7 linked regions of the Homo sapiens genome follow. The protein of the gene in region 3 purifies or fractionates together with the protein of the main gene of each other region. This does not show direct contact. Each region holds a gene or a part of one and is shown on either strand. Other genes may lie near its edges. The genes, in order: MKI67, RSL1D1, RRP1B, NRAS, DDX56, PDCD11 and DDX47.

Region 1 (3,500 bases), on a different chromosome or scaffold from region 3:
GAAGGGGCAACAAGAATGCAAGTGCTAAATGTCTAGCCTGTCAGAAATGGAGGAGGTGTCATTTAACATGTCAACGACAGACAGATGCCTAACTTTCCCTTGGTGACTGATGGTATGCTATGCTTAGGAGAGACTCTAGATATGAGAAAATTGCCTGTTCAGCTGTCAACTCAGTTCTCAGTAGTTAGATAGCATGTGCTATTTCATACTGGTTATTGGAGCTGATATGATTTATATATTTGTATCATAATACTAGTATCATAAGACTTGCAAGTTTTAGGCATTAAATAATTTGTAGGCCAAGTAAAAGCTAGCTTATAAGACAACCTGAAACAATTAAAATATTGAATTCCACAAATGTTAATCATTGAGAAAATGCTGAACTTCTGTTTCTTATTTCATAATTCATTGCCAAGATGAGAAAGCTCAAGATTCCAAGGCCTATTCAAAAATCACTGAAGGAAAAGTTTCAGGAAATCCTCAGGTACATATCAAGAATGTCAAAGAAGACAGTACCGCAGATGACTCAAAAGACAGTGTTGCTCAGGGAACAACTAATGTTCATTCCTCAGAACATGCTGGACGTAATGGCAGAAATGCAGCTGATCCCATTTCTGGGGATTTTAAAGAAATTTCCAGCGTTAAATTAGTGAGCCGTTATGGAGAATTGAAGTCTGTTCCCACTACACAATGTCTTGACAATAGCAAAAAAAATGAATCTCCCTTTTGGAAGCTTTATGAGTCAGTGAAGAAAGAGTTGGATGTAAAATCACAAAAAGAAAATGTCCTACAGTATTGTAGAAAATCTGGATTACAAACTGATTACGCAACAGAGAAAGAAAGTGCTGATGGTTTACAGGGGGAGACCCAACTGTTGGTCTCGCGTAAGTCAAGACCAAAATCTGGTGGGAGCGGCCACGCTGTGGCAGAGCCTGCTTCACCTGAACAAGAGCTTGACCAGAACAAGGGGAAGGGAAGAGACGTGGAGTCTGTTCAGACTCCCAGCAAGGCTGTGGGCGCCAGCTTTCCTCTCTATGAGCCGGCTAAAATGAAGACCCCTGTACAATATTCACAGCAACAAAATTCTCCACAAAAACATAAGAACAAAGACCTGTATACTACTGGTAGAAGAGAATCTGTGAATCTGGGTAAAAGTGAAGGCTTCAAGGCTGGTGATAAAACTCTTACTCCCAGGAAGCTTTCAACTAGAAATCGAACACCAGCTAAAGTTGAAGATGCAGCTGACTCTGCCACTAAGCCAGAAAATCTCTCTTCCAAAACCAGAGGAAGTATTCCTACAGATGTGGAAGTTCTGCCTACGGAAACTGAAATTCACAATGAGCCATTTTTAACTCTGTGGCTCACTCAAGTTGAGAGGAAGATCCAAAAGGATTCCCTCAGCAAGCCTGAGAAATTGGGCACTACAGCTGGACAGATGTGCTCTGGGTTACCTGGTCTTAGTTCAGTTGATATCAACAACTTTGGTGATTCCATTAGTAAGTTTATTTAATTGTAAATTTATTTTTCTAAAAGATGAACACCTTCTATGTAGCTGTGAGACCTTCATTCTTTCAGTAGTGATTAGCTTTGTGGAAGAGAATGTAAGCACATAAGGCACAGGGATAAGACAGACACGCACGCTGTTTTCGCTAATAGATGAATACTGAAGGCCTAGGTAATTGTAACAAGGAATGACAGAAGAGATGGAAGTTGTCAGGCAATCATGAAGCAGGGGTTATTGAAGGAGATAGGGTGGCCCCAAAAATATTTGATTCTCCTCCATCTATCACAAAATAGAAAAGAGAATAATCATAATTGCTTTTCACATGGAGTTTAATTCTGAACTACAATCAACTGTATCATATGAGTTTGGTCATGTGGAATAAATCACTGGTAATCATTAAACATAGCGGTAGTTCTCAGGTGTTGATACTCTGTTTTCAGAGTGTCCTACAAACAATTTGCTGTAAACACTGGACTGTACCCATGAGTCCATATGCCACATGAACACTTGATCCTTGGTGCAATAGCAGTGCCCGTGGCTAGGTTGTCTTTTTAGAGCTATGTCACACATGAGGAAACGCACAACCCAAGGCCAGTCAGGAAGTGGCAGAGGTAGGACCTTTATAGCAGGTGTGGTAGCTCCTCGGGAGCTTCCTACACTCCTAGGGACTGGCTATTAGAAGAAAAGTTGTCTGGGCCACAGACGCAGTATTCGTACTCCAGGCTGTGTTTCTGCAGGTGGCCTATAGCGGTGGGGCATGAGGCTGTCGATAAAATAAGGTTTGTAACATCAGTCTCAGTATTCCACCAAGCTTCCTAGTGGGGAAGCATCACTTAGGCAAGGGATTTACATTAACTGGTGGCTCAGGAAAATGTGTGGCCGGGACTGGGCTCCTGTGAATTGACTCAGAACCACCTGGAGGAGTTTTTACAGCTCATGCATTCTGGTCACTGGGTGGCTCAGGCTGAGACCCAAGTGCATGTCTTTAGAGAGTTCTCTGGCTGTCGTCCCCCTACTCTAAGGTGAAATCTGCTGCTGCAGACTCCTCCTTTCTATGTCCACACATAATGTTTCAATGTTTTAAAGAAAGCCTCTGTACTGTCCAGTGGCAACTTGACGTCTTAGTGGCCACTCCCGCAATCCTTTAGGAACTCTTAGTAGCTTAGCTTCACCAGGATTGCAAGAATAGAGGCGTGCTGTAGGTACTGTGTTTCGATGACTTTTCACTTGGTTTGTCTTTAATGCTAACGTGAAATAAATCACTAGTCTTGGTATGTTTTTTCATTGCTCTTTCCACATTTGTATCCGTTACTTTAGATGAGAGTGAGGGAATACCTTTGAAAAGAAGGCGTGTGTCCTTTGGTGGGCACCTAAGACCTGAACTATTTGATGAAAACTTGCCTCCTAATACGCCTCTCAAAAGGGGAGAAGCCCCAACCAAAAGAAAGTCTCTGGTAATGCACACTCCACCTGTCCTGAAGAAAATCATCAAGGTGAGTTGAACAAGCAGCATCCCATTCACGCCCAGTGGCTCACACACCGGGTACCTATTCCTTTCCAAATACTGACACAAGTAGAATTATGATGAAGACCTTTATTTATTTATTAAAGAAACAAGTTTTTAAAAAGACGAATGAAAGCTCATTGATGTGGGCACCAGCAAAGGAGCCCCTGGGTCCCTGACCGTGGTGCTGATGCGACCGAGTCGGGGGAGTCCTTGATGTTGTCCTTTTCGTGCAGAAGTTCCCAGACACCCACGCTTACAGCACTGCGTAATCACCTGCAGGCACCGTCAGAATAGCCAATTACAAAGATTCTGGATACATTACCACGTCGACCCATAAGGATTGTTTTATTTTCTTTTAGAGTTACAAGGCTATAGTTAAGGCATTTACCTGGTGTGAAGGAAAATCAATGGCACATCTTCCTTTTACACCTTCAGCTCTTTAGAATATTTGCTTGCCTGTTCCTTTGCTGTGTTGTCCTTCCTGGGTTT
Region 2 (3,500 bases), on a different chromosome or scaffold from region 3:
ATATTGGTTTAACCTTACCCTGGATACTGAGCTAGGCGGAGCCCCCACACCTAGTCTTACCTACTAGAACAGATGTTTTAGGGCAGTGATTGCTTCCAACCTCTGGCTGAGCAAAGGATGCGGTTCAGGCTATTTTATTAGGCTGAGAAGTGACTTAAGTTTGTATTATTGGCAGTGTATCAGCTTGGGGAGGTAGGGCAGGTTTTAAATGTATTGAAAATACATTTTATGAAGTACTGCACTTGCTGACTGCGGTGTGGAGATGGCTAGCTGCCAGTAAGGCAGAGCTGTAGGCCACTGCCCTTCCACCCAGAGATTCCCCAGGAGCCGTGCAGACCCAGTGGACACAGTCGGCAGAAAACAACACAGACTTCTTGCCTCTGCTCACCAGGGAGGCCTGACCCCAGGGGAGTGTCTCCAGGTAGAGCAGAGCAGGGTACTGGTGGGCAGGACAGGTGGTCTCTGGTGTTGTCTTTAGCCTGCTGCTGGGAATCCCTTCATCAGGTGTAATGAAGTAGCCTAGAAGAGTTGGTCACGGAGCCTAGACCCCTACCCCTTTGGTTAAAGGCTAATGTCAAAGTAGTGGCTCATGGAAGTGGTTGGCTAGAAGTTCAGGCCTTGTTTATGGGACCCATGAGTATCTGGGAGAAGAAGATGGTACCATGAAGGCAGGTAAAGGAGCAGCAGTCTCCTGCCACTGGGGATTTTCCAAGGCAAAAGCAACAGCTTAAAGAAAGTTGCAGACAATTGAGAAAAAAAGAAATCATTCTTTATTTCCTCTCTTACCTTTCCCCAGCAAAAGAATTTATTTTCCTCTTCCACTTCTGTTCCTCTCCCTTCTTCCCCCCCACCATCTTTCCATCTGGGATGCTCAGGTGTGCTTGCAGGCAGGTGGTGACAGGCACAGGGAGTGGGCAGTGCCCAGTCTTTGGCTGAAGAGAGAGAGGAGCAACAGTCCGTCTCATTCCTCATTCCGCAGACACTGTGCCGACAGTGAGCCTTCCTTCTGGCTCACTTCCTTCTGGCCCCAGCGCTGAGCCCTCCAGGCTTCCCACTGGGCTTCTGCCTGCACTCTGTTTCACCTGAAGGGATGGTCTTGCTCGTAGCTGAAAGACACTATTCCACCAGGGACAAGAACTATTTACTCTTTTTTTTTTTTTTTTTTTTTTTTGAGACAGAGTTCTTGCTCTGTCGCCCAGGCTAGAGTGCAGTGGCTTGATCTCAGCTCACTGCAAGCTCCGCCTGCCGGGTTCACACCATTCTTCTGCCTCAGCCTCCCAAGTAGCTGGGACTATAGGCGCCCACCACAATGCCCAGCTAATTTTTTTGTATTTTTTTAGTAGAGACGGTGTTTTACCATGTTAACCAGGATGGTCTCGGTCTCCTGACCTCGTGATCTGCCCACCTTGGCCTCCCAACGTGCTGGGATTACAGGCGTGAGCCACCACGCCCAGCCACAGAACTATTTATTCTTGAACATGGCGGCTGGGTAGAGCAGTAGAACTATAGAGAGAGCAGGTGACCCTCCTGGAGGTAGGTCCCTTTAGAACAGCTTGAAGGCGGACTCAGCGACATGGGGTTGTCTAAGATAAAGGTAGAACCTCCTCTGGCCCTGCCTCCCAATGCGCCTAACCTCACAGTCAGGTGCTACCAGCTCTTTAATCACTGCCTCGGCTGGGCATGGTGGCTCACGCTTGTAATCCCAGCACTTTGGGAGACCGTGGCAGGTGGATCAGTTGAGGGCAGGTGTTTGAGACCAGTCTGGCCAACACAGTGAAACCCCATCTCTACTAAAAATACACAAATTAGGCCGGGCGCAGTGGTTCACGCCTGTAATCCCAGCACTTTGAGAGGCCGAGGCAGGCGGATCACCTGAGGTCGGGAGTTTGAGACCAGCCTGACCAACATGGAGAAACCCCGTCTCTACTAAAAAAAAAAAAAAAAATACAAAAAATTAGCCGGGCGTGGTGGCGCATTCCTGTAATCCCAGCTACTCGGGAGGCTGAGGCAGGAGAATCGCTTGAACCCAGGAGGTGGGGGTTGCAGTGAGCCAAGATCACGCCATTGCACTCCAGCCTGGGCAACGAGTGAAACTGCATCTCAAAAAAAAAAAAAAAAAATTAGCTGGGCGTGGTGGCATGCGCCTGTAATCTCAGCTACTAGGGAGGCTGAGGCAGGAGAATTGCTTGAACCCAGGAGGCGAAGGTTGCAGTGGGCCGAGATCACGTCACTGCACTTCAGCCTGGGCGACAGAGCAAACTCCATCTCAAAAAAAAAAAAAGTCACCCCTTCATGATGTGACATTTTACTTTAGGTAGAAGGAATTTCTAGTACATGAAAGATGATAATCTTCCTTTAAAACATATTTAGGCTGGGTGTGGTGACTCATGTGTATAATCCCAGCACTTTGGGAGGTTGAGGCAGGAGGATCACTTGAGCCCAGGAGTTCCATACCAGCCTGGTGGATCACTTGAGCTCAGGAGTGAGAACCCATCTCTACAAAAAATACAAAAATCAGCTGGGTGACCTGTAGTCCCAGCTACTCCGGAGGCTGAGTTGGAAGGATTACTTAAGCCCAGTACGTTGATTGTGCCACTGCATTTCAGCCTGGGCGACAGGAAAACCCTGTCTCAAAAATGAAATAAAATATATTTAGAACCTAAAGATTTTAATGGGATTTTTTTGTTTGTTTTTTTGTTTTGTTTTTTTTTTCAGACTGTGTTTTTCCCTGTTACCCAGGCTGGAGTGCAGTCGCCAGATCTGGGCTCACTGTATGTAGCCTTGAGCTCCTGGGCTCAGGTGATTTTTCTGCCTCAGCCTCCTGAGTAACTGGGATTACAGGCATGTACCACCATGCCCAGTTAATTTTTGTTAGTGTGGTAGAGACAGGATTTTGCCATGTTGCCCGGGATTAATATTTCTACCTTTTTAAAAGAAAAAGAAAAACTTGAGGATTATGTATTTATATTTCTCATATACCTGCCTGGTTTATTTTGAAAAATGGTTTTTTAAAATCTTGTCTAATACTATATTAAATTTCAGTGCTATACGTATTGGTCACGTTGGAATGCAAATTGAGCACATCATTGAAAACATTGTTGCTGTCACCAAAGGACTTTCAGAAAAATTGCCAGAGGTACAGTATTACAGGTGCATCAATTGATTGTTCATTTAAAAGAAACAAAGTATATGTAGACGATGTTACTCTTTTCTTTGTTTCAGAAGTGGGAGAGCGTGAAACTCCTGTTTGTGAAAACTGAGAAATCGGCTGCACTTCCCATCTTTTCCTCGTTTGTCAGCAATTGGGATGAAGCCACCAAAAGATCTTTGCTTAATAAGAAGAAAAAAGTTAGTAGAATTTTAAATACTTACAGAATGAATAATGAAGGGTGTAAATTCAGTCACTAGGAGAGAAGTAGACCATCATCGCTGCCCGACTTTTCAGTTATCTTCTGGTTTTGTGGTGGTTGTGCTTTTGTCACTTTACATGAGGTAAAATG
Region 3 (3,500 bases):
AGACTGAAGCTTTGGGCTCTGCTAATGCTTTATGACGGCACGAGCTCAAGTCTCCGAGGCCTCCATGGTGCATGCCGCTCCCCAAGGGCTGAGTCGTGCCCTTCTTTTTAGCTTTACAGCTTACCTTTCTCCTTTTCCAAGTTAGTTTTCTCTAAAAGTTTATTTCCTTTCTTCTTATGCTTTCCTTGACTGAGGATTTGGTCATCTTCATCAGCAGAAATGTCCTCCGCAAAACTGAGTTGAGATATACTGCTTCCTAGATGCCAGAGTGACACACTGTTAGCTTCCCCAGGCGCTCAAGACTCTGCCCCAGGGGCCTAAGAGCAGCACCCCTCCCAATTTCTGCCTCATCATCATCGTTCCTCACCGTTTCTCCCACCCAAACCTGAGCGCTGCTGACACAGGAATTACAGACTTAAAAAAGCTTTGTGGATTTCTCAACCAAGGCAAGGCAAGGGATCACAAGCCCTCGGTGACACCCTCCATGGCTGGACCCCGGACGCTTGGCTAATGCAGTCTCTGCATTCCAACCAGCTTGCTGGTGCCTTTCCCAATTCCAAGTGTCCCTAGTGAATGACGGGTATGGGGTAACTTCACTGACTTGTCCAAATGTAACAAAGCTTACAGCATCAGCCTTTCCCGGGGGGACCATTGACCATAAGAGCAAATGAAAGGGATCCTGAGAAATTACATTTTTTACCTTCATAGAGTATCCAATTAAAACCTTCCTAGGCCATTGAAAATCCATCTAGTTAAAATAATAAAAACCAAACCAAAACATCGCAGTACCCACACATGAGAGCAGTCTGCCCTCTTGCTTTGGTGGTTAGGGAGAGCCCAGGATAGGAAGGTGGGCAGGCTGCAGGGAGCCCTAGGCTTGCATCACTTCCCACGCTGTACTGCGGTATGACTAGGTAAGGGCTGGTCTGTCTTTCTTAAAAGTTGGGGTCTTGTTGTGTCACCCAGGCTGGAGTGCAGTGGTGTGATTACAACTTACTGCATCCTGGACCTCCTGGGCTCAAGCGATCCTCCCCTCTTAGACTCCCAAGTGACTGGGACTACAGGATCACGCCACCACGCCTGGCTAATTTTTTCATTTTTAGTAGAGATGTGGCCTTGCTATTTTGCCTGGGCTAGGGACTATTATTTCTTATCAGAGGTTTTCAGTAAAGTTCTTTCAATCTTGTTTCTCAGCGTTTGGCATCAACGCCCCCAGTGGGGTCCATATTCACGAAAAACACCATGAATGATGATTCTTGGCGCGCCTCACCTTCAGAAAGGTCTTGGAATCTAAAAATAAAAAAATAAAAAATAAAAAATAAAAAAATAACAAATGTTCATAAAGAAATCCCTTCTGTCTTCTGTAGACATATGTATTTGATTTTTAAAATACAAGCCATAGTTAAATAGTTGTTAATTCACGTTCTCCTCCAGGAGGGGAGGCTAGACAGGAAATTCTGTGAGGGAAGGGTGGTGCAATACAAAAGCCAAAAAGCTCAAGGCCAGTGCCGCCCTCGGTTACCATCAATACCAGCAAGGACACGGCGGGCCAAAGATGCATCTTGGCACACCCAAATCAAACTAAGAAATTCAATTTTTGTTTCTGAAGGCAGAAATAGCTTAGATCTCTCTCATATTCAATTCTCCAGTGGAGAAAGGCGAAGCCATGTTTTGCTTCACACAATTTTTGTGCATTAGAACAAACAAGACGCATCGAAGCGCAGTGTGGGGAGGTGCATGGGGGAGGAGACACTGGATGGCAGGGACCTCAGGCAAGCTAGGACCATCCTGTGCCCTAAGAACCAGCTGGGAAATGGGCAAAACTACAGGAGCTACTTTCTGGGGGCTTAACATGGAATACTTGAATGTATACAAAGTGCTCAGAGCAGTGCCCGGCTCCTAGAGTGTGATCAGACAGTTGTTGTCACCAATGACAGCAAGCCACACGAGGCCCTCCATGAATTCCAGGTCATCATGTCACTATGGTCAGAGTGACATCAACACTGACAGCTGAATTAACTAACACTTTTGGCATAGCCATATGGGAGGGAGGGGAGAGGTAAAGAATTAACCCTATCTATCTCAGCAGCACACCAGCAGAAGACACCTAAATAGCAGATTCACATCAGTTTCTGGTTGGTTCATTTTAGACATGAATAGACTTCACATCATTCTAAAGCAGCTAAGAGATGAGTATGGCTGCACTGGAAGAATGGAACCTGAGGGGTGGGACTGCTGTTTCCATTAAGCTTTTCAGTTTACATGTGTCTATTACATTGCTATACACAAAAGCATTAAAGGACAAAAAAAGAAGAAAGAAAAAAGATAAGCATGCAGATGGCTTGTCCCACACCAGGAGATGAGAACTAAAGGAATGATGATGTCAGAACCCTCTCCCCAGTTACTGACTTCTTGATGAGTTTGGAGAGGCGCTTCCTGTTGAAGTGGGGCGTGTTCTTCCTGCTGGTCATTTCCAGGAGTCGATCAGCAACAGCCTTATAGTCAAACTAGGCAGGAAGAGAAACTAAACATAAGTCTGCAGCCAAACAACACTGCCTGACTTGGCCATTTACATCTGCTAGTAAGAGAAACCCTTACTGAAGCATTTGGCAACAGATAGGCTAAACAAGCTTGTGCTGGGACTTGGCAACCAGGAGCACAAGCACTACCTTTGAAAAATGCATGTTCAGGCCGGGCGCGGTGGCTCATGCCTGTAATCCCAGCACTTTGGGAGGCTGAGGCGGGTGGATCACAAGGTCAGGACATCGAGACCATCCTGGCTAACACGGCAAAACCCCGTCTCTACTAAAAATACAAAATATTAGCCGGGCGTGATGGCGGGCGCCTGTAGTCCCAGCTACTCGGGAGGCTGAGGCAGGAGAATGGCGTGAACTCAGGAGGCAGAGCTTGCAGTGAGCCGAGATCGAGCCACCGCACTCCAGCCTGGGAGACAGAGTGCGACTCTGTCTCAAAAAAAAAAAAAATTATTCTTGGGAAAAGCTGGGTAAGCAATTCTTAAAAAAAAAAAATTGTGATAGAGTACCCACAACAAAATTTACCTGGGTGTGCTTTTTTTTTTTTTTTTTTGAGCCAGAGTCTGTCACCCAGGCTGGAGTGCAGTGGCATGATCTCAGTTCACTGCAACCTCCACCTCCCGGGTTCAAATGATTTTCCTGCCTCAGCCTCCCGAGTAGCTGGGATTACAGGCGTGCGCCACGGTGTCGGGCTAATTTTTGTATTTTTAGTAGAGACGGGTTTCACTGTGTTGGCCAGGCTGGTCTCGAACTCTTGACCTCAGGTGATCTGCCCGCCTGGGCCTCCCAAAGTGCTGGGATTACAGGCGTGAGCTTGTAATTAAATTTTAAATTTAATCTAGATTTGCAATCTGTACTTGGCAAACTTTTTTTTATTTGAAAAGTGCCACTAGAGCTGGCTCTGTGGTAGAGAACAGAGGAGAGCTTAGCCATTCAAAATAAGTGCTACTATCTCTTTCAAAACTC
Region 4 (2,803 bases), on a different chromosome or scaffold from region 3:
ATTCTTCTGCATTTGCTCATTGCACCAGTAACTCCAGCTAGTAATTTTGCTAGGTAGCTGCAGTTAGCCCTGCAAGGAAAGAAGAGGTCAGTTAGCACAAACCCTTTACCATGACTGGAAAACTCAGTATCACGTATTTAAACATTTTTTTTTCTTTTAGCCATGTAGAAACTCTAAATTAAGCCAATATTCTCATTTGAGAATGAGGATGTCTCAGCTGAGAAACGTTTTAAATTCTCTTTATTCATAATGTTCTTTGAAGGGTTTAAAACAAGATGTTGATAAATCTAAGCTGATGAGTTTGCTCAAAACAGGAAGTTGAAATTGTTGAGACAGGAATGGAAAATATAATTAATTGATACCTATGAGGATTTGGAGGCTTGGCATTTTAATTTGCAGATAATACCCTGGTAATTCTCATGAAAAATAGACTTGGATAACTTTTGATAAAAGACTAATTCCAAAATGGCCACTTTGTTCCTGTCTTTAATATCTAAATACTTACTGAGGTCCTCCATCTTCTATATTATGAATTTTCATTTATTAAGCAAATGTCATATTACCTTGAAATTCAGAAGAGAAGAAACATATACTGTGTCCAGAGTATAATGAACCTGCAGAGTTGTGCTTCTTACTGCTAATTCTGGGAGCTTTCACAGTACTGTCATCATTTGTAAATGGAAATTCTGCTTTTCTGTTTCTGCTCCTTCTGGAGCAGTGCTACTCTGTAATTTTCCTGAGGCTTATCACCTCAGTCATTTCTTTTTTAAATGTCTGTGACTGGCAGTGATTCTTTTTCTTAAAAATCTATTAAATTTGATGTCAAATTAGGGAGAAAGATAGTTACTCATCTTGGGCTCTTGTGCCAATAGCCCTTGTATGTATGTACTTAGAGTTTTCCAAGTATGTTCTAAGCACAGAAGTTTCTAAATGGGGCCAAAATTCAGACTTGAGTATGTTCTTTGAATACCTTAAGAAGTTACAATTAGCCGGGCATGGTGGCCCGTGCCTGTAGTCCCAGCTACTTGAGAGGCTGAGGCAGGAGAATCACTTCAACCCAGGAGGTGGAGGTTACAGTGAGCAGAGATCGTGCCACTGCACTCCAGCCTGGGTGACAAGAGAGACTTGTCTCCAAAAAAAAAGTTACACCTAGGTGTGAATTTTGGCACAAAGGAGTGACAAACTTATAGTTAAAAGCTGAATAACTTCAGTGTGGTATAAAACGTGGTTTTTAGGCTATGTTTGTGATTGCTGAAAAGAATTCTAGTTTACCTCAAAATCCTTCTCTTTCCCCAAATTAAGTGCCTGGCCAGCTGTCATAAATTACATATTCCTTTTGGTTTTTTTAAAGGTTACATGTTCAAGAGTGAAAATAAGATGTTCTGTCTGAAGGCTACCATGCCGGATCTGTAAATGAACCTGTTAAATGCTGTATTTGCTCCAACGGCTTACTATAGAATGTTACTTAATACAATATCATACTTATTACAATTTTTACTATAGGAGTGTAATAGGTAAAATTAATCTCTATTTTAGTGGGCCCATGTTTAGTCTTTCACCATCCTTTAAACTGCTGTGAATTTTTTTGTCATGACTTGAAAGCAAGGATAGAGAAACACTTTAGAGATATGTGGGGTTTTTTTACCATTCCAGAGCTTGTGAGCATAATCATATTTGCTTTATATTTATAGTCATGAACTCCTAAGTTGGCAGCTACAACCAAGAACCAAAAAATGGTGCGTTCTGCTTCTTGTAATTCATCTCTGCTAATAAATTATAAGAAGCAAGGAAAATTAGGGAAAATATTTTATTTGGATGGTTTCTATAAACAAGGGACTATAATTCTTGTACATTATTTTTCATCTTTGCTGTTTCTTTGAGCAGTCTAATGTGCCACACAATTATCTAAGGTATTTGTTTTCTATAAGAATTGTTTTAAAAGTATTCTTGTTACCAGAGTAGTTGTATTATATTTCAAAACGTAAGATGATTTTTAAAAGCCTGAGTACTGACCTAAGATGGAATTGTATGAACTCTGCTCTGGAGGGAGGGGAGGATGTCCGTGGAAGTTGTAAGACTTTTATTTTTTTGTGCCATCAAATATAGGTAAAAATAATTGTGCAATTCTGCTGTTTAAACAGGAACTATTGGCCTCCTTGGCCCTAAATGGAAGGGCCGATATTTTAAGTTGATTATTTTATTGTAAATTAATCCAACCTAGTTCTTTTTAATTTGGTTGAATGTTTTTTCTTGTTAAATGATGTTTAAAAAATAAAAACTGGAAGTTCTTGGCTTAGTCATAATTCTTATATTCACTGAAGTGCCTTTATAGAATGCTAATATTAATTTCAAACTTTTGGATGTGACATTTGGAAGTGTTGGAATATCTGAGTTCCTCATTTCATCATAACATCAAATATATCAAAGCCTGCTTTAAAGTATTACCTTGGGGATGATTCATAGCTATTTGTCAGATTTGCATACATTAAGATGCCATTGGAGCTCTTTTGTCTCGTTTTTGCATTACTGCACAATCTAGCCATCTTGGTATAGGTGGAGGAGCATTGATGCTAGGGGCTGGAGAACTTGAGGCCCGATATAATTTTACTACGCCGGCCCAGTTTCTTCAATTGCAAAATAGAAGAGTTGAATTAGGATATATCAGATTTCCCAACCTTAAGGAGACTTTAAAAAGAATAATATCAAACCTAGGCATTTTCAACTAACACTGGAATACTAATTTTGGAGACCTTGGTTTACTCTACCAAAGACATCAAAATTTTTTTTCACTTTTTTTTCTTGA
Region 5 (2,802 bases), on a different chromosome or scaffold from region 3:
GCCACACTCACCCAGGTAGTCAGGAACATGGCCCAGGTGGGGCTTCACCACTGCGGGGTGCAAAGGTAGGTCATGCCGCAGCAGCTGGAGGTCCCTAGGGTTGTCTTCAAAGTATGTCTGCCGGGGGAAGAGGGAGAGCCACAGAGTGAGCATCTTTCTTCTGTGACTTCACAGACCTAGCTTTTCAAAGGATAACACACTCATGTGTTTCAAAAGGCATGAGGCAGCTGCTTCTGTGCATTTCTCAGAACCTCCCGGGAGTGGATGTTTCCATTTTCCCTTCTCCATGACACACATGGCAGTACCCTGTACCCCTTTTTGCTGGGCATCATCTTACAGACTGTTCCATATGGACACGCAACCAACCTCATTCCTTCCCATGTAACCTTCGGCTCTGAATGCACCTGAGTTTACCTAGCAAGCCCCCTATGGTGGCCCCAGGCTGTTTCCATCTTTTGGTTCCATGATAATGCCATGGATGGATGAATGCAGGCACATGCTTGACTGTGCACATTCACAAGCGTGACCAGGATTAAGTTCCAGAAGTGGAATTTCGGATGAAAGGACACATGAGCTCGTAATTCTGCTGGACAGTGTCCACCATAAGGTTGTGCCAATTTACCACCAAGCAGAACAGACTGGCTTCCTTCCATGATTCTGGGTCCATTTCCTCCCCTTCCGTGCCAAAGGCCAGAAAACTGCCCAGTTCTCTGCTTCTCACCACTCGGAGCTCAGCCAGTCTCCAAAAAGGGCAGCCGTCTAAGATCTATCCCCTTCTCACCTCCCATCCACTCACCTTAAGCTTCTCAGAATGCAGAAGCTCTTCCTTGATCTCCTTCAATCTTGCCTCCCGAATGGCCTGCTTAGTCACTGAGCGCATGGCATCCTGGGGGTGGACACTGAAGGTCAAGACAGTGAGGCTGCCCCAAATCCTCCCTTCACACCTGGATGCTCAGCAAGACGGTGCAATCCCTGGGCCACAGCCCCTCCCCTCTCATTCCCCTCCCCACCACAGCAGCTCACCCTGCAGCGATAGCGGAAGCCCTCGATCTCCTCCATCCGGAACTGGTAGGGGAGCAGAATGGGGCCCCTGTTCTCTGTGGAGAAGAAAGCAGCGAGGGTCCCACAGGCTGAGGCCTTAGGATAGGGTCTTCATTGGAGGCCTCCTGCACCTCCCCCTTGGGGGAAAGCAGCAGGGGACCCACCGCCTTCCTGGGATGCCGAACATGCAGGTTAGCTGCACCTGGGCCTCTTACAGTGATGACCCATCTGTCCCCGTGTGTGGATGGGGGTGGCCTGTGTGGCCCCAAGCCCAAGAACCCGTCACCCACTCTCTTCTCCTCTCCCAAGGAGTACCCCATGGTATTCCTTGGGAGTCAAGGTACCCCCATGACGACGGCCACAGAGAGCAGTCCAGGACCACCCAGCACCCTGGGGTCAGGTGCTGTCCTGAGCTGTCACAGCAGCCTGTCAGGTCACTCAACGCTCATGAGGCAGACAGTAAACACAACTTTGGACAAATTACCTCAATTTGTTTATCTCTCAAGGGGGACAGTGCCTGCCACTCAGGGCAGAACAAGGATGGATGGTGGAAGTGGCCTGTCACACTATGTTGTGACCTCTGTCATCATTATCATGGAGTTTTAAAGCATTGTGGAAGAAGCCTGACCCTGGCCCAGGACCACAAGAGCCAGGCTCTTACCTCCACTGAGAAGCTCCTCAATCTTGCCTAAGTGGAACTGCTCCGTGGGAAGCACAAAGGTTAAGACTATGCCTGGGTTGTTAGCGCGTGCTGTCCTGCAAGGGAAGACAGTGCAGCTTGCATCTCCAACCCGCAGGCTCTGTCCAGCACACCCCAAGTCCCTCAGTGTGCCTACCATGCAGATGCCTGGGCCGTCACACTACTACCTGCCAGCTCGATGGATGTAGGCCTCAGGGGTTGGGGGAAGATCAAAGTTGAGCACAGCAGACACATGGTGGAAGTCTATGCCCCGGGCCACACCTGCTTCCGGATCAGAGGCCCTGCAGAGATAACTCAATGTCAGCCGGACCCTTCCTCTCCTCTGGGCACGTATTCACACGCTGAATCAGCAAAACTTCCTCTAAATGCCTGTAGATCATAAGACCCTGACATACAGAGGACTCTCCAACAATGGAACCGTTCCAGGAGTCAGGGTTTCCTGGGGCAGCCTGGAGCTTTGACATGTACCCAAATCTCGGCCTGACCTCTGTTCTGGGACAACAGCAGAACTCATTGCCCTACATGGTGATCTGAAAACCAACTCTGAGCTAGTCAAGCCTTCAGCTGGACAGAGACTGGAGAGTTGGGGGGTTCCTTTTCCCTTCAGAAATATGCTCCCTGCAAGTCACAGCCATACCACCAATGCAGGATGGGCCATCTCCCCTGCAGGGCTCTGCATGCCAACAACCCCGGCAGTTTTGCCCTTCGTGGTGCATGTGCAGTGTGCACCATCCACTCCCTTCTCTATATCCAGGCAGCTGAGCAAGAACCTGTGGGGCTCTCTGGGCTACACTACCAGCCAGGCCTGGAAGGTTTGGCTCCCTGCTCTGTGCACTCTGGTTTTAGTCTTCCAAAAAGCTAAAAACACAGGCATTTCTGGGGAGGGATGGAAAAAGAGGCATGGACTCACTTGTCCCCTTTGGGCCCTCGGCCCCGACGCTTGCCCTTGACTGGGGCCCCCAGGACTTCAGCATCAGTTGCTATGACACAGTCGTAGAAGCCTTGGTTGAACTGTGAGATGATGTGGCACCTGCAGCCAAGAGCGGACAGAGAATCAGCTC
Region 6 (3,500 bases), on a different chromosome or scaffold from region 3:
AAACCAGGCTTTAAATTGATACTTAAAACCTGTACACAGCTTTTGCATTAATTTTCATATGATCCCTCCAGCCCTAGGAGAACCAAATATCCCCACTAGAGAAACAAGAAAACTTGGACAGAGAAAGGCAAAAATCAATCCTAACACTGGTAAAATCAAGATTCGAATTCGGGATTCCTAATTCCAAAGCCCAGTGCTCTTTCCGTAAGACAGTGCTGCTAATGTCCCCCTCACCTTGGCCGAACACTCAGCTCCGGGATGGTTCGAACGAATCTGGGGTGACTTATTGGGAGATACCTGGAGAAACAAATAAGCTGAATCATTTCTCTTCATCTCTGTAACACAGTAATCTGTAGGTCAGGATTTCTCCCTACTCTCCACCAAACCAAGCTCACAAAAGCACCCTGTTCCACTGTCACACCACCACTGAAGACAGATGTGTCAGGCTGAAGGTTTCCATTCCCAACCTTTGCAGTTATTAGTAAGGAGCAGGCTCATCTGAATTTTTTTTTTTTCTGGGACAAGGTCTCACTCTGTCACCCAAGCTGGAATGCAGTGGCGCAATCATGGCTCACTGTAGCCTCAATCTCCTGGGCTCAAGCAATCCTCCCAGCTCAGCCTCCCAAGTAGCTGGGACTATAGGTGTATGCCACCATGCCCAGCTAATTTTTATTTTTATTTATTTATTTTTTTTTTTGTAGAGATGGGGTCTCACCATGTTGCCCAGGCAGGTCTTGAACTCCTGGGCTCAGGTTTTCCACCTCCCTCATCGTCCCAAAGTGCTGGGATTACAGGGTTCAGCCACTACACCCAGCCTCACCTGATTTTTTTTTTTTTTTTGAAACGGAGTCTCACTCTCTTGCCCAGGCTAGAGTGCAATGGCACAATCTCAGCTCACTGCAACCTCTGCCTCCTGAGTTCAAGTGATTCTCCTGCCTCAGCTTCCCGAGTAGCTGGGACTACAGGCACTGTGCCCGGCTAATTTTTGTTTTTTCAGTAGACGGGGTTTCACCATGTTGGCCAGGCTAGTCTTGAACTCCTGATCTCAGGTGATCCACCCACCTCAGCCTCCCAAAAGTGCTGGAATTACAGGCGTGAGCCACCGTGCCTGGCCTGATCTTTTAGGATTGTCATATCAGATCCTGAAAACAATTTTCCTTACAGTCTATATACTCCAATTCTTTCATTCTAAAAATAAGGAAACTGAGGTCTTTATTTAGAGGATAATTGACTTACTGAAGACCCCACAGTTAGCTACTGAAATTAATATGCAAATTATTGGCCAGACTTTGAATTCTTTTTTTGCTGTTCTTGTTATAGCAAGAATTTCTGCTACAGTAACATGTGGCACTAGATTTAAAGTAAATGAGGATAATTAAAGTGGGAGGTGGAGAATGACAACTGCAGATGTATACAGCGCAGTAACTGAGGCCAGCAACCCACTAGGCAAAGAACAGACTACACGTTCTCTCTTTCAGTCTTCACCATGGCCCTACAAAGTAGTCGCTACCATGACTCTCACGTTACAAATTAAGAAAATAAAATTTGGACTTAAGTAGCTACTGCCACATGGTCACAGTTAATCTAGAATTCAAACCCGGGTCTGACTCCAAACCCATGTTCTTAACAACCACACCATATATTCCATATTTTTAAAAAGAATAATGCACTGTAATCCCAGCACTTTGGGAGGTGGAGGTGAGCAAATCACAAGGTCAGGAGATTGAGACCATCCTGGCTAACACAGTGAAACCCCATCTCTATTAAAAACACAAAAAGTTAGCCGGGCGTGGTGGTGGGTGCCTGTAGTCCCAGCTACTTGGGAGGCTGAGGCAGGAGAAGGGTGTGAACCCAGGAGGCAGAGCTTGCAGTGAGGCGAGATCACACCACTGCACTTCAGCCTGGGCAACAGAGTGAGACTCCGTCTCAAAAAAAAGAAAAAAAAAAGAATCTTGCAAAATAATTCTTTGGTGAATGCCTTTTGTTAACTAAAAGAGAATCTGACTTACATGCAACTTTTTGGAGCCCACCTACTTTCCCAGTCCTCCCACAACAACAACAATCTCCCTCGAAGCCAGCCCACCCCCAGAGCCTCCATACTTGAATGTCTTCATGTCTCGCCCGCCAATCACTCGGGCAGTGACCGTCTTCCCAACCTTCAGCTTGGTAGTAGGAGAGGTGCCCTCTGGAACATCATCTAGAATGTGGGAGGCATGGATACAGCCAATAATGCCATCTTCCAGAGTCACAACCACATGGGTAGGCTTAATGGACTTGACAGTCCCTGTGACCATGTCCCCGATGGAGAGGGTGTGCTTCTTTATGGTCCCTACAGTCAGAGCTGGATCCACTTCTTCATCCTCATCAACTGTCTCAGAGTCCTTCTGGGTCGGCCTCATGGTCCTCTTGGCAGCCGGCCCCTCCACAGCCAAAAGAAGGCCAGTCACTCCTGGTTCTGTGGTCTTGAGGGTTAGGGAGACACCCTGTCCCACCTGCAATTTCTCTGAGTCAAAGCGGAAGGTGTCGTTGAGGTGAGAGGTCAGGGAGAAAGCTGCCAGGTGGCCCGTCTCTACCAAGGAGGCAATGGCAAAGGACTTCTCCAAGTGCTGCACAATCGCCTGGTGTTCGCTGCCTTTCCTCAGCTAGAAGAGAGAAAAGCCACCATCCCTGCTTTCCTTACACAGCATGGTCACTCACTCATGGCCCCACTGGGCAGGGTGTGGCTGAGGAAACCCTCTGGGGTCCCAAGGCTAGGGAACTCAAGGCTGGTCTGAGCTGGAACAGACTAGCCTTCACTCCCTGGACCTAGCTTTCCTCTCCTGTACACTAAACTCATGGGGCTGCCTCTGAATTACCTTGGCTTGGTTTTTGCTTTGCTTTGAATTTAAATTGCAAGACCCTATCCTAGATCTAGTAAATCTGAATTTTACAAGTTATTGAGATAATTCTGATGCACAGCCTTGCAACCTCTAACAGCTCTCTCAGCTTAGAGACACTGTGGTTCCTGAATCTGTCCTGCAGCTCCCCCACCCCCAATTAATCACTCTTCAACCCAAGCAATGAATAGAGTCATTACTGAGAGCTTATTGTGTGCAAGGCACCTAGCCTCTCTTTCCTCAAAATCCAAATTGTGCTCATGCTCTTATATGCCCAAGCTTCCCTTAGGTGATAAAATGGTACAGGGTCCTGCTAGAAAACTGAATGAGAGGTTAGTATTGCTTTCCATTCTCTCTCTGTCCTAAACTCTTAATACTGTAAGCAACTGGAAATTAAGGATTATATCTACACTGCACCATACTCTGTGCAACTAGGTGCCTAATAAGTGCTTTAGACAATAACCAAATATATTCATCACCCAGAGAAAAATAATAATTTTTCCCTCAAACCCATTCTTATGTCACACAAAAGTGTCCAGAAGACAAGGCAGGCGAGGGTGTGGACGCACAGCTTGGAGGTCTGAACTGCCCACAGACATGCTGTTTGGCTCATGGGATGTTTTT
Region 7 (3,500 bases), on a different chromosome or scaffold from region 3:
TTTGAAGCTGCAGTGAGCTATGATCAAGTCACTGCACTCCAGCCTGGTCAACAGAGTGAAACCTTGCTGCTTAAAAAAAGAAAAAGAAACAAAAATCGGCCAGGCAGGTGGCTTGTGCCTGTAATCCCAGCACTATGAGAGGCTAAGGCAGGTGGATCGCTTGAGCTCAGGAGTTCAAGACCAGCCTGGCCAACATGACAAAACCCTATCTCTACTAAAAATATTTTTTAAAAAGCCAGGTGTGCTGGCATGCACCTGTGGTCCCAGCTACTTGGGAAGCTATGGTGAGGTAGGAGGATTGCTTGAGCCCAGGGGGTGGAAGGTGCACTTAGCCAAGACTGCACCACTGCACTCCAGCCTAGGCGACAGAGCGAGACAAATACAAAAAAAAAAAGGAAAGGAGGGAGGGAGAAAATCCCTCAAGGTATTTATTCACAGAACAGCCTTGGGTACATAAAAATTTGTTTCTTTAAAAAAAACAATTGGAAATAGTTATTCTAATACTTTCTGAGTTGACACAAAGGCAATTGCTCTCCAGCTCTAGGTACCATTCTACATGCCAAATACTATACTAGATCTTTTACATATATAATCTCCAATTTTCACCAAAACCCTGCTAGATAGGTATTATTATTCCCATCTTTCAACTCCTTCATCCTGGTTTTCAGTATGAAAGTGATTAGTGTAGTAAATGGTAGTGTCAGGTTCTCAGCCAGTGGCTTGAAAGTTCTGCTCTTTTCTCTACATTGCTCGGCCCTAAAGCTGATTTACTTACTGTGTGACAAAAGTAATAGCCTTTCCGGAGCGCCCAGCTCTAGCTGTTCGACCTACTCGATGGATGTAATCCTAAAACAAAAAGGGTAAATAAATTCAAGTTATATGGATTATAAGTTTAAAAAAAACTACATATGCAAAGTCCTGCTGCAAAACCTTTGAAAGAAAATAGATTCATTTCGTAACATGGAGAAAATAAATGGCCGGGGCAATTTGTTGAGACAAATCTACTTCATCTTTTTTGTTCTCCTTGCAGCACAAAATTGATCCAATGCTTTCCCTTCTTTCACAGACAGATAAATCTACAAAGCATATCTACATGGTCGCAGGCTGCATGGTATTTTAAAAAACAGCACTGGATCTCGAGGCAGAGCTGGATTACAGCTCTGATCCTTCCCATCTGCCAGTTACACAATTACCTGCAAATCACATAACCTCTCTGAACCTTGGTTTCTATCTAGTGAACAGGAATAGAAATACATGCCCATATTACAGAGTTGTTATGAAAATCAAATGAGACAGCATCTTGTCTACAGCAGTTAAATACAAAGACAAGAGACACAACAGTTCTCATCCAGGGGTGATTCTGCCATCCTCAAGGGACACTGGTAATGTCTGGAAATATTTCTGATTATCACAGGTGGAAGACTGTGTGATGCTGTTATCTACTGGGTAAAGGCCAGGAATGCTACTAGGAATCCTTCAACTCAAAGAACAACCCCCACAACAAGGAATTCGAAAGCTTAAAATGTTAATAGTGCCAAGGCTGAGAAACCTTGAGATACACTAAGCACTACAAGCTGTAGGCCGGGCACGGTGGCTCACGCCTGTAATCCCAGCACTTTGGGAGGCCGAGGTGGGCAGATCACGAGGTCAGGAGATCAAGACCGTCCTGACTAACACGGTGAAACCCCATCTCTACTAAAAATACTAGCCGGGCGTGGTGGTGGGCGCCTGTAGTCCCAGCTACTCGGGAGGCTGAGGCAGGAGAATGGCGTGAACCCAGGAGGCAGAGCATGCAGTGAGCCAAGATTGCGCCACTGCACTCCAGACTGGGTGCAGACTCCACCTCAGAAAACTCAGAGCGAGACTCCGCCTCAAAAAAACTACAAGCTGTCATTCTCAAGAAATGACAGTGACAAGATCAGTATGTGGCGCACCAGCCCCTTCTATGAGCATCTAATAACTCTCCTTGGCTACCTCTTTCATATGTACTAATGTTACATACACAGGCCTGTGCAAGATGATGTGAATGAACTAACCAAGGGCTTTCTTGTTTTTTGATACTTAATTAACCAGGAACAAAATAACTGCTGTAACTAAGGAAAGACAGAAGACAGTCCATTAAGAAATACACTTTAGGACTAGAAAGGTAAGTTAGCAATAGGACTCACCTTGGAATGGGTAGGAATGTCAAAGTTGACAACCACATCTACATGAGGTATGTCCAAACCTCGGCTGGCAACGTCAGTTGCTAGAAGAATGGAACGGGCCTTGGCCTTAAACTTATTAAGGGATCCTAGGCGCTTACTCTGAGGTAATGAAAAAGAAATGTTGGAAAACTTAACCTATGTTTTGGAATACAAAACACAAAATAGACAAACACGAGAACAAACAGACATAAATTTTTTAAAGGTTTTTCCCCCTAAGTTTTGAATGGGGCTTCACAGGTCAAAACAGAAATATGGAAGCAACAAAAAATTAAAAAAATATATATGATACAAAATAAGGGTAGTTTGACACGATAGAAAGGTAACTGGGAAATAATTTATTAATGTTTTTAGAGGCCAGAGTCATTATTACCACTAGGGCTGAATAAATCAACTCAACAGCTTGCAAACCAGACAGGTACATATGAAATATTCTAATGGGAGCCTCTCGCTACCCTGAAAGGAGAAAGTAAGTATCTAGAGCAACACTTCAAAGCCCATAAAATTACAACAATTATGGAAACAGGCATCGGTGCCCTATGGCCTTATTGTACAAACCTACTGTTAGGAGGTTTATCTCGCTCACGCCACCAGTGCATGGCTGATGATGATGATGAATCCTTACCTGACTCATTTGTCCATGGAGGGGGATGGCAGTGAAGCCAAGATTTCGCAGTAGCAAAGCTGTTCTCTGGGTATTATTACAGGTGCTGCAGAATATCATAAAGGAGTTTCCAGCCAATTCATTTAGAATATAAACCAGGTAGGTATCCTAAGTTACAAACCCAAAACAATATATGTCATTGAACCTGGGAGACAGGATTGGAGACCTGGCATATACATAAGGTAAAGACTAAGCCTATAGTCGCTTTTCAATTATCCAGACCTCCAGCTGCCAGCTTTGCATTCCTTAACCAGCATTATCATCTCTGTGAACCACATATTCCCCACTTAGCCTTAAGGCAGGCAGGAGATCTGTACTCAGCAAACAGGAGAAGTCCTTATATCAAAGCACAAAACCAGGGGCTTCATCCTAAATAAAAGCCACATAATAAGCAGACAAAGGAAAAATTACCTCAAGGATGGGGATGGGAAGGAATTATATGATTACATCATGACCTCAGTATTGTGATTTAATGTGTTGTGAATTCCTGGCATGTCTGGCTTATCGGTGATAATATAAGCACGATATGCACTCTAAAGCAAACAGACAGGATGCCAATCTGCATTACAGCTCTTACCTAATCAAGAGTTGACACATTTTCAGATGCTTTGGTGAAAAGAAGAGGGAGAGGC

The links.
Region 1: the proteins of RRP1B (region 3) and MKI67 purify together in Homo sapiens (co-immunoprecipitation; 2 studies listed by IntAct, with this or other methods). This does not show direct contact.
Region 2: the proteins of RRP1B (region 3) and RSL1D1 purify together in Homo sapiens (affinity purification with mass spectrometry; 2 studies listed by BioGRID and IntAct, with this or other methods). This does not show direct contact.
Region 4: the proteins of RRP1B (region 3) and NRAS purify together in Homo sapiens (co-immunoprecipitation; one large-scale study listed by IntAct). This does not show direct contact.
Region 5: the proteins of RRP1B (region 3) and DDX56 purify together in Homo sapiens (affinity purification with mass spectrometry; 2 studies listed by BioGRID and IntAct, with this or other methods). This does not show direct contact.
Region 6: the proteins of RRP1B (region 3) and PDCD11 purify together in Homo sapiens (co-immunoprecipitation; one large-scale study listed by IntAct). This does not show direct contact.
Region 7: the proteins of RRP1B (region 3) and DDX47 purify together in Homo sapiens (co-immunoprecipitation; 2 studies listed by IntAct, with this or other methods). This does not show direct contact.

The regions. Positions count from the first base shown.
Region 1 is NC_000010.11:128,112,924-128,116,423, reverse strand, and holds part of MKI67 (proliferation marker protein Ki-67), read left to right. Parts: intron 1-416; coding exon 417-1,496; intron 1,497-2,821; coding exon 2,822-2,997; intron 2,998-3,500. UniProt on the Homo sapiens protein: Protein that associates with the surface of mitotic chromosomes and acts both as a chromosome repellent during early mitosis and chromosome attractant during late mitosis.
Region 2 is NC_000016.10:11,841,543-11,845,042, reverse strand, and holds part of RSL1D1 (ribosomal L1 domain-containing protein 1), read left to right. Parts: intron 1-3,042; coding exon 3,043-3,136; intron 3,137-3,222; coding exon 3,223-3,348; intron 3,349-3,500. UniProt on the Homo sapiens protein: Regulates cellular senescence through inhibition of PTEN translation. Acts as a pro-apoptotic regulator in response to DNA damage.
Region 3 is NC_000021.9:43,683,560-43,687,059, reverse strand, and holds part of RRP1B (ribosomal RNA processing protein 1 homolog B), read right to left. Parts: intron 2,508-3,500; coding exon 2,410-2,507; intron 1,291-2,409; coding exon 1,271-1,290; intron 257-1,270; coding exon 125-256; intron 1-124. UniProt on the Homo sapiens protein: Positively regulates DNA damage-induced apoptosis by acting as a transcriptional coactivator of proapoptotic target genes of the transcriptional activator E2F1.
Region 4 is NC_000001.11:114,703,969-114,706,771, reverse strand, and holds the end of NRAS (GTPase NRas), read left to right. Parts: 3' UTR 1-2,303; downstream 2,304-2,803. UniProt on the Homo sapiens protein: Ras proteins bind GDP/GTP and possess intrinsic GTPase activity.
Region 5 is NC_000007.14:44,568,107-44,570,908, forward strand, and holds part of DDX56 (probable ATP-dependent RNA helicase DDX56), read right to left. Parts: intron 2,772-2,802; coding exon 2,652-2,771; intron 2,023-2,651; coding exon 1,909-2,022; intron 1,798-1,908; coding exon 1,703-1,797; intron 1,098-1,702; coding exon 1,024-1,097; intron 887-1,023; coding exon 797-886; intron 118-796; coding exon 12-117; intron 1-11. UniProt on the Homo sapiens protein: Nucleolar RNA helicase that plays a role in various biological processes including innate immunity, ribosome biogenesis or nucleolus organization. Plays an essential role in maintaining nucleolar integrity in planarian stem cells.
Region 6 is NC_000010.11:103,424,126-103,427,625, reverse strand, and holds part of PDCD11 (protein RRP5 homolog), read right to left. Parts: intron 2,643-3,500; coding exon 2,101-2,642; intron 298-2,100; coding exon 235-297; intron 1-234. UniProt on the Homo sapiens protein: Essential for the generation of mature 18S rRNA, specifically necessary for cleavages at sites A0, 1 and 2 of the 47S precursor. Directly interacts with U3 snoRNA. Involved in the biogenesis of rRNA.
Region 7 is NC_000012.12:12,823,346-12,826,845, reverse strand, and holds part of DDX47 (probable ATP-dependent RNA helicase DDX47), read right to left. Parts: intron 2,977-3,500; coding exon 2,830-2,976; intron 2,307-2,829; coding exon 2,169-2,306; intron 847-2,168; coding exon 776-846; intron 1-775. UniProt on the Homo sapiens protein: Required for efficient ribosome biogenesis. May have a role in mRNA splicing. Involved in apoptosis.